2 separate regions of the Homo sapiens genome follow, and region 1 is linked to region 2. The links come from fine-mapping of genetic effects on gene expression. A gene starts in region 2. The other region holds a variant in brackets. All regions are shown on one strand. Distances are from middle to middle.

The links. PIP is the estimated chance that this variant, and not a neighbour inherited with it, causes the effect.
Region 1: its variant is the best candidate, but not a certain one, in a credible set for the expression of CLEC12B in sigmoid colon (GTEx, PIP 0.66).

The regions. Positions count from the first base shown.
Region 1 is chr12:9,920,555-9,925,946 of GRCh38, forward strand. CLEC2A (C-type lectin domain family 2 member A) reads right to left here. Exons shown (of 5, transcript NM_001130711.2): 3 at 1,512-1,678. Among named protein-coding and RNA genes, the nearest start is that of CLEC2A, 9.1 kb to the right of the region's middle. The variant A/G (reference allele first, on the strand shown) is at 3,069.
Region 2 is chr12:10,007,619-10,013,010 of GRCh38, forward strand. CLEC12B (C-type lectin domain family 12 member B) reads left to right here and starts at 3,009. Exons shown (of 6, transcript NM_001129998.3): 1 at 3,009-3,232; 2 at 5,167-5,265. The coding sequence starts at 3,142.

The DNA.
Region 1 (5,392 bases), 87 kb before region 2:
TTCATTGTCTATGGGTTGAGTTGTTTCCTTGATTAGTTCCATTGCGTGTACCCTGGATGTTTCAGTTCAAAGTGCTGTATTTACTCACCCCTTCAGTTCCTCTCTTTGAGAGCTGCGCACTCCAGCTACTTCTAGTCGGCCATCTTGGCCACTCTCCAACCCCCAGCTTTTCTTTAAAAACTAATCTATTTTCTTACTCTGTGTCCCTAGAGTCCACGTGTCTCCTTCTTTGCCCTCTTTACTTCCATTAATTCACTCGCGTCTTCGAAGTGCACATATTTCCTTCATTTCCTTGTCTCTAAATTCTAAGAGCTGTATTTTTAAAAATTTTTTCTGTCTATGCTTGGTAGAATGCAAATTGAAAAGGGTTTAAAAAATCTACTTAATAATCTAAGAACATTTAACGAAGACATTTAGATACATAAACAGTATGCATTGTGGTAAAGGACATGGCATCACTAGTCATCTTGCCTGGGTTCAAATCCCAGCCCAACAACTTATGGCTGTGTCATTGGCTGGGTTACATAACATTTCTGTGACTGACTTTCCTCATCTTTAAAGTAGGGAGAGTTATATAACTCCTTCATGGGTGTTAGTAGAAGATTACATGAGATTATATAGTTTCAGTGCTTAGAACACTGTTGAGCACACATTGTCATACACAGTTGACTCAAACAATGTGGCAGTTAGGGGCACTGACCGCCTGTGCAGTCAAAAGTCTGTATATAACTTTTGACTCCTCAAAAAGTTAACCATGCTGTTTATGGTATCTCATGCTAATTCTAGCACTTTGGGAGGCTGAGGCAGTAGAATTGCTTGATCTCAGTTTGAGACCAGCCTGGACAACATAGTGAGACCTCATCTCTACAAAAAATAAACAAAATTAGCCAGGAGTGGTGGTCTGCACCTGTAGTCCCAGCTACTCAGGAGGCTAAGGTGGGAGGATTGCTTGATCCCAGGAATTCAAGGCTACAGTGAGCTGAGATTGCACCACTGCACTCCAGCCTAGGTGCCAGAGTGAGACTCTGTCTTAAAAACAAACAAACAAACAAACAAAAAACAAAAACAGAAAACTTAGCCACTAGTAGCCTGCTGTTGACTGGAAGTCTTACTGGTAACATAAAAGTAAATTAACATATATTTTCATGTTATTTGAATTATATGCTGTATTATTACCATAAAGGAAGCTAGAGAAAAGAAGATGTTATTAAGAAAATCACAAGAAAGAGAAAATCTATTTACTATTCATTAAGTGGAAGTGAAGACATCGTAAAAGTCTTCATCCTCGTTGTTTTCATATTGAGTAGGCTGAGGAGGGGGAAGAAGAGGAGGGTTTGCTCTTGCTGTCTCAAGGGTGGCAGAGGAAAAATAATCCAGGTATAAGTGAACCCACACAGTTCAAACCCATGTTGTTCAAGGATCAATTGTATTATAGTATTAGCTATTATTGTTTTATTATGTTTTTATACAAACAATCTCTGAAATTACTGAAGACTTTTCTGTTTTCTTACCATGTCTTCTTGTGTATCAATCTGAGCAAGTTCTGCTTTCTGCAAACTACAAAATATTTTACTGGCTGTCCAATTTCTGGTATCATCAGAAAAATAGAAACACTTATCTCTCACTCCAAGCCAGTCCCCTGAACATGCCACAGGTTTAGCATGCTTGGACCATGTGGCTGAAAAAAAAAGAAAGAAATGATCAGATAAAGCATATGTTAAAAAGTGTTTCTACTCATTCAGGTGTATTAATTTTACTTTTTGCTTCCACAGTTTGAGGCCCGTAAGTTAGCTTCCCCCCTCCCCAGAATGAGGATGAATTAACTTCCCCTGTCTGTAAGGAAGATCATTTAGTGATCAAGCAGTGCATACTTTTTTCTATTTCCCTGGCTTCTATTTTGAGAAATGGAACCACTAGCTTCTCATAATCTATATTAATATCCTGCCAAAAACAATGCATAAAATGTAGCTATAAATTCTGCAATCAAGGTAGAGTGCTGGAGATCTGCATGTAATTTAGGTTTCGAGGTTAGGGTAAGAAATGGAGGCTTTCCTTTACCTATGAAAACACCCAAGCTAGGAAAGTGAAACTTGCCATAAAGGACAACACATAAGTGAAACATAAGAATTAGTGAAACCTTTGTTTCATTTCATTTACATCCAGTGCTGAAGAATATGGAATAATAATGAAAGCACATTGTTTGGAGATTTACTGTCTCAAGGTTTTATTTAGGTGCTAAGTATTCAGAATAAGACAAGTCCATGCATTCCACATGTTTGAATAAATTAATGCAAGTAATAAAGAGCCAACTATATGCTCAAATGTAGGGCAAACTCCAAAGGCTGCACCCCCTACTCCACCATGATTTATTATTATTATTATTATTTTGTAGTGCTCAGAAGTGGATACAGGCTACTACACAGGGTGTAAGATATAATGTGTTTCAACTCTGTCTCTGTGCTCTTTTTGTTGTGTTTTGTTTTGTTAAACTTTAAGTTCTGGGATAAATCTGCAGAGTGTGCAGGTTTGTGACGTTGGTATACATGTGCCATGGTGGCTTGCTGCACCTATCAACCCATCTTCTAGGTTTGAAGCCCCGCATGCATTAGGTATTTTGCAATCTATCCATTTGACAAAGGACTAATATCCAGAATCTACAAAGAACTTAAACAAATTTACAAGAAAAAAACAATCCCATCAAAAAGTGGGTGAAGGATATGAACAGACACTTCTCAAAGAAGACATTTACGCAGCCAACAGACACAGGAAAAAACGCTCATCATCACTGGCCATCAAAGAAATGCAAATCAAAACCACAATGAGATATCATCTCGCACCAGTTAGAATGGTGATCATTAAAAAGTCAGGAAACAACAGGTGCTGGAGAGGATGTGGAGAAATAGGAATACTTTTACACTGTTGGTGGGACTGTAAACTAGTTCAACCATTGTGGAAGACAGTGTGGCGATTCCTCAGGGATCTAGAACTAGAAATACCATTTGACCCAGCCATTCCATTACTGGGTATATACCCGAAGGATTATAAATCATGCTGCTATAAAGACACAT[A/G]CACACGTATGTTTATTGTGGCACTATTCACAATAGCAAAGACTTGGAACCAAACCAAGTGCCCATCAATGATAGACTGGATTAAGAAAATGTGGCACATATACACCATGGAATACTATGCAGCCTTAAAAAAGGATGAGTTCATGTCCTTTGTAGGGACATGGATGAAGCTGGAAACCATCATTCTCAGCAAACTATGGCAAGGACAGAAAACCAAACACCACATGTTCTCACTCATAGGTGGGAATTGAACAATGAGAACACATGGACACAGGGACGGGAATATCACACATTGGGGTGATGTTGGGGTTGGGGGAGTGGGGAGGGATAGCCCCCCTGTCGTGGGGTTGGGAGAGTGGGGAGGGATAGCATTAGGAGATATATCTAATGTAAATGACGAGTTAATGGGTGCAGCACACCAACATGGCACATGTATACATATGTAACACAAACCTGCACATTGTGCACATGTACCCTAGAACTTAAAGTATAATAATAAAAAAAAGAAAAAAAGAAAAAATAATAATCGCCATACTGACTGGCCTGAGATGGTATCTCATGTGGTTTTGATTTGCATTTCTCTACTGACCAGTGATGATGAGCTTTTCTTTATATGTTTACTGGCCACATAAATGTCTTCTTTTGTCTTTCTGCTCTTTTTAATCAATGAATAAATGAACATAAAAACTTACTGTAGAAACTCTTGTCTATATTTAACTTCCAGATGTTTAGACAGCAATAACATTAAGCTCTAAGACTACACTGACAGTAGAGACTATAAACAAGAAGACTATCAGTATTCTTGAGAATGACCGAAACCCAACCCAACCCAACCCAACCCAACCCAATCAAACCAAAACAAAACAAAGAGCAGTGCTACTTAGCCAAATATAAGTGCTAAATTAAGCAAACCATGCATATGGAAAATCAAGTGCTGGGGACTATTTGGCCATGGCTCAGGAATTAAATTCTACCTTTGGATCTTTTTCACAAAATAAACCCATAGAACCCAGAGGAAATTTAACAACTTCATTTTTACAAATATTGCAATTCCAATGAGACAGTCTTGCAAAAGGTCACATATGCCGTTATTTCTTTGTTTTTTTTCATTTAACTTAATATGATAGTGAAGGAGTTCAGAACATGATGCCCCGAAATATGTCACTCAGGCATATAGACTCTTTTGAGTTAAACGCACTTTTAAAACAGCAGATGCAAGAGAAAACACTCTGAGCTTCCTTATTTTTCTTATAAGCAGGAGATAAAATACCTTTGTGAAAGATATCTTCTCTATACCAGAAGGAAAGCAACATTCTTATAGTCAAGGATAGGTAGTTGAGGCCAAAGGAAATGTGTGCAAACAACATTTGTTAATTTAACATTTATCTTTCCGGTCACTTTTCTACCCAATTAATTACCCTAGATCAAACCTCTTTGCCTTGCCACATTTTCATAATTTATTACCCTTTGTTGAATTCAATATATAAGTGTTCAACTCTACCTGCATCTTTAGGCTTTCATAAGGAAGACGTGCATGTCACGTCAAACTTATATTAACTAAACGCATGTGCTTTGCTCAAGTTGATGTGTCTTGTGTCAATTTCATTCTCAGGCCCGCAGAAAAACCCTGAGCGGGTAGAGGTAAGATTTTGCATTCCAACTAATAGAAATAAATAAAGTTTTATAGAACAAACTATTAGTGACATAACTTACTCTTGATTAAAAAGAAATTAAAGGAATGCTACAATTATGAAGGTCAAGCTGCATGGTTTTTAAAATTTATCAAGCATTAGAGTTATACAGCCAAGGTGTTTGATCCTAGGTCTGGAATGTATTATTTGTGAGAGGCAACTTACTCATTCTGTCCTGTATATTTTTTATCTGTAAATGGATTTTCTTATACCTGTATCCTAGTCTAATGAGGATTAAATACAAATAGCAGAGCATAGTGTATTTAACATTAGCTCACTAATTCACAAACTCTAAAAAAGAAAATTATCTGTAACAAGCCCATAGAACTGATGTTTATGTGGGATTTTTTTTTATAAATATAGAAATTGATCCTCCTAGTTTTAAAACTTGAAACTTACATTTGTCTTATTTGAGTTCATTCTTTAGGAATCTGACCTTTAGTCCTCTCAGATAGTAACAGGAAACCGAAAGTCACCAGATCACCACTTCCAGACAAGGGACTCCTCACTGCCATGATTGTCTAACCGACCACCTGCTCCCTGTTGACCAACTCTTCTTCCCTACCCCTCCCTAATTCGGGAATAGTCATTGTCTCCGGGATTGGCTTTCTGTGCCCTGAGCAATGGGACCTA
Region 2 (5,392 bases):
AGAGATTGGGAATAATCTTTTAGGAGATTTGCAGAACAGATTGATTAGTAAGAGTGCTGAGAAGTTACATTTCAAAAACGTAAGATAAAACCAGTTAATATGATCACATTCAGCTACTTGAATGTATGCACAGAGTAGGTAGGGTTGGATTTAAACAAGCTGCATTTTCTAGATGCTTATGATGAATGAAGAGGTAAGCAAGGAAGTTGTAGCTGTGGGTAAGAAAACGATTTTTATAATTGGCCCTGGTAAGTGGTGCATGCTGGGTATAATAGGAAATGAGACATGAGGGATTGACAACAATGAGAAGTTGGCATGGTCAGTGAAGTTGCTATCTCAGTGGGCACTGAAATGCTGTAGAGTGTAGAATACCCAGAGAGAGTGGGCTGGAAACATAGGAGGTGGAGGTCAGAGAGTGAAATATCTGAAACAGATCATGGAAGAATTTCTCATATTGGAAATGAAATTGTCTGCACTCTAGTGCAGTGCTGTTCAATAGCCACGTTGCTAATAATGGAAATGTTATTTACCTGCACTGTCCAATTGCATAGCCAATGCCACCTGTGGCTGTTAAGTACCTGAAGTATGACTAGTGTGACCTAGGAAATAAATTTTAAATTTAATTTAATTTTAATTAATTTAAGTTTAAATAGCAATTATATGCCTAGTGATTACTACGGTGAATAGCCTAGCTCTAAACTAGGATCATCTAGTGGGTGACTGATTTTTGTGTGTGAGCAACTGATTTCTGAGTGTGGGTAAGGTTATTGGAGGCAAATTCAAGAACTGAGAGCCCATAGTATTGGAATTATCACCTACCTGAATGTCGAAATCACATGATAATCATGATAGGAGTAGAGATCAATAAGATTTAAGATAGTTGAAAAAATAATGAAGAAATAAGGAGAATTTGGTAAATGACTGCAACAAAGTGAGTTTTTAAATAGTGTAACTGATAAAATAAGCTACAGAAATGCTGTAAGTTTTTAAGGGAGAAAAGTATATAAAGAAATGTCTAAATTAATATGATCATACACTAATAATGATAGATGATATAGCTTTTTGGATCATAATAATAGAAAGTATGTGAGAAGTGTTATCAATCTTCTCTTAGAAATAATTAGGAATCAGGTGACATTCTTCATCATTGTTCAAGCTAAGCATCATTTCATGGATAGTGAGAAGTTAATACTTTGTTAGGAAGCTTTAAGGTATGTGAAAGAATTAAGGAAATGAGGATGAAAACCCAGTTTTTGCAAAATCTGGTGAAAGTCATGAGACGTGAGGCCAGCCAGACTTCCTGAATCGAGTGGGGACTCAGGGAACTTTCCTGTCTTACAAGAGGATTGTAAAACGCACCAATCAGTGCCACGTAAAACGCACCGATCAGCGCTCTGTAAAACGCACCAATCAGCAGGATTCTAAAAGTAGCCAATTGCGGTGAGGATTGAAAAAAGGTCAGTCTGATACGACAGAAACGGAACATGGAGGGGACAGTAAGGAAATAAAAGCTAGCCACCCCAGCCAGCAGCAGCAACCCGCTTGGGACCCCTTCCATGCTGTGGAAGGTTTGTCATCCTGCTCTTCACAATAAACCTTGCTACCACTCAGTCTTTGGGTCCGTGCCATCTTTAAGAGGTGTAACCCTCACCGCAAAGGTCCGCGGCTTCATTTTTGAAGTCAGCGAGACCAGGAACCCACCGGCAGGAACCAACTCCGGACACGGACCAGAACAGAGATAGAAAACCATTCTTAATTTCTTATTTTTGTAATCATCTATTTAAACTGGTCCTCATGTCAATGGTCTCTGCCTTTTCTGAATTCAACTAGAATAGTAAACATAAGCATAGATTTATTATTTGTTTCAATATTTTTGATAGTGGAGTTTTATTGATATATGACTTAGAGCCTCCAAACATTTTTTTGATTATTTCATCAATTTGAAAAAAAAAAAAACAAAAAACATGAACAAGTAACATATGTATATTTAGGTGTTTAGAGATCATGCACAGCGTTCCTAAAGAGAAAGTTTTTACATTGCCTTTCTGCATCTGCTTCACAGCTGTGGGGTGAGTGCACCTCACGCTGGACACCTTTGACTAAGATAATCTCCACACAGATATGAACCTTGGAAGTTTTAGATCACTCCCCACTCATCTGAAACCACAAAACTCATACCCAATCCTTCCCCTAAGTACAGTTATCTAATATTCTGCCTCTCCCCAAAGGAAAGCTTTAGAGGAGATTCCTTAATTTCGTCCCTCATATATAGCGCTCCCCCCCCATATTTTCCTGGGTTCTGTATTAACTACATATTGCTGCTGTAACAAATTACCACAGATGTATTAACTTCCGGTAGTTATCTTTTTAAAATCTTGTCCTGTGTATTCCTTGCTGTCTGCAGGATTATCCCATGGTTGTTGTTCTGTTAGGAACTTTCCCAACCATGCCAGAAGAGGGCACTCCCATTCATACTCACGTTAAGTAGCTAAGTAGCTATCAGTTTCTTCTCCATGCTCCATTACCAACACCATGTCTCTCTCTCTCTGTCTCTCTCTCTCTGTCTCTCTCTGTCTCTCTCTCACACACACACACACACACACACACACACACACACACGCTTGAATTTTCTATAATAGCAGCCAGGTGTGTGGCACAGCTCTTTCTGTCTTAATGTGTGTCTCTCTGCTTAATATCTAATGTGGCTGAGAATAAACTAGAACCAATGTCTCCAGGCAGATTAGCTAGCCTTAGATAGATGTAAAGAAGACAACCTGACTCTTTTCTGAAACATTCAGAGCATCCTCTACCCCGAGGATCATGGGAATTCCCTCATGTTCCTCCTGCTCTGCCTCAAGCACCCCTTCTTTGCTGCACAGCAAGAAACAGTTCTGACAGAGCAGACAGTTTGAGATCTGTAACATTCTAATGAGAATATCTCTAAGGAGAATATTTGGCTTTTCTCACTTTCTCTGTAGAGAAACAAATTGTCATTCTTCTCTTACAGAGGGGCAGTAGAGTGTGTCTGGGTCAGCTGAGTGACTACATCAAAGCTCCCAGCCTTGAAAAACACATGCTGTTCCCAGGCCTCAAGATATTGAAACATTAATTAGATAATTTAAAGTAGCGTTTTCTTCTACAATGTCTGAAGAAGTGACCTACGCGACACTCACATTTCAGGATTCTGCTGGAGCAAGGAATAACCGAGATGGAAATAACCTAAGAAAAAGAGGTAGGAGTTCAGAGAAGACCAGCTGTGTCCTTGGGGGAGTGGACAGGTGTTAAATGCTTTGAGGTGCCAGCTTTAATACTGGCGTTAAAGACATGTGCTGTGAAATCTCCAAAATGGGGACAAATAGTTGTGGAATGTATTAGAAAAGTGAGTGTTCCCAAGGTTGAAGTGAAAATATGTGGCTTTCAGAACCTCTTTAAAGTTGTGTGATATCACACAGTCAGAGAAATTCTGACTGCACATGCCAGAAATTGAGCTTGGGGAATTAGAGATTTCTTCTTATGAATATAATCCTTGATATTTATACCTTGTTAGAGATGCCAGGAGGATATTCTTTCAGAAACCAGATTGGAGGCTTCTAAAATAGAGAAGGTAGAGGACGTTTTTCTTTTAGATGATGTAAGTTACTTAAGAGAAAACTGGAAGATGAGTGAGTGGATTAGAAATAGATCAGAGCTAATTTTTCTTTTGTCAGTATTTTTTCAAATTTTAGGGTAGTTGAAATCCGAGCATAATTTGTAATGTTGAACCAGTAATAATAGTATCTGGGTAGTATTTTATGTACATTATATACAGATATAATTGTAATGAAAATCCACAATAATATTCGAATATTAGTATTTTCTCCATTACATAGATGAAAAAACTGAGGGTGAGAGAAATTAGATAATTTAAGCAAGCTCACACAACTGCTATGTGGGGAAGCCCAGTCTCAGTGCTGGTCTTCAGCTCATTCTCTTATGCCTAATTGGAAAAATAGCAGTCTCCATGGTCAAGACTCTGATTTAATATATAAGACCACATCTCTTATTTTCAGATATGTTAACTATCCAGGTTCTCCTGAATCATGTCAGTCATCTGAACTACTTTCTCCTGCCCTCTAGATTTATCTTTACATTTTGTGTGGTGCATGACATTTGAGGGAAGGATATTTACAAAAAGCCGATGGGAATAGACTTTGCATATGTCTAATAAATGTGGTTACACATTTTTGCCTTGTTTTGTTTTACTTTTTAATTCTAATTCTAACCTGTGAGGAAAAAGGAGGTGTGGATATGGTGCATATCACAGTGTACCTAGAGTCTGTCATGCTGTATCTAAAACATTGCGCTAGATGTTATTTGGACCTAAATCAAGGGATATGAAGCTAAGGAAAACATGACAACCATTGATATTTTAAACAACAACAATGACTAGGATGCTAACGGCTTTCTGGTCTATTCTGCTGTTTGTAGGTTAGACTGCACATTCTTTCCTTCTTTCATTCAGTATTCATTCATTATTTATTAGGTGATAAATAGCATGAATAATAGATAAGTTATTGTTAACAGGTAAAAGATACTTTAAAAAGTCGAATCCACTTTTACAAGGCAGATAGAACATGTGCCTTATAGAGACTTTTGAGCTCAAAAGCTTGAGGTGTCTCCTACTGTCAGCATCATCCAGAAAAGCAGTTTTTAGATCTCTCATTTATGAATTCAATAAACTTGAGGAAGAAAAGTGGGCAATGATGTAAAACAAAAACCTTGAAATTAGGAGAAGCTTCCTTTTTATTTTATTATTATTATACTTTAAGTTTTAGGGTACATGTGCACAATGTGCAGGTTAGTTACATATGTATACATGTGCCATGCTGGTGTGCTGCACCCATTAACTCGTCATTTAGCATTAGGTATATCTCCTAAAGGTATGCCTCCCCCCTCCCCCAACGAAGCTTCCTCTTAAAGTGAAGGAGAGCGGTGGAGAAATGGAGGGGAAACAAGGATGGCACCCTCATTGCACTTCATATTAGGTATTTTCTAAATGAGGGCATTAAAGAAGCAAGAAAGAAACGTTAGTATCGGGAAGCTCCCTAAGTGGGAGAAATAAACAAACCAAAGTGAAACAAGCACAAAGCAGTTCTGTGTGCTGATTGCTCTTTTGGCTTTCTCCAGGGCATCCAGCTCCATCTCCCATTTGGCGTCATGCTGCTCTGGGTCTGGTAACTCTTTGCCTGATGTTGCTGATTGGGCTGGTGACATTGGGGATGATGTGTAAGTATATCAGCATCAAACCCAACAAAGGCAACTAGAAAACATATTGTAAACCATGTACTTTCAGCTTGGATTGTAGATGGGTCCTAGCATCCTGAATCGTCTGATACTTTTCTGCTGTCTCATA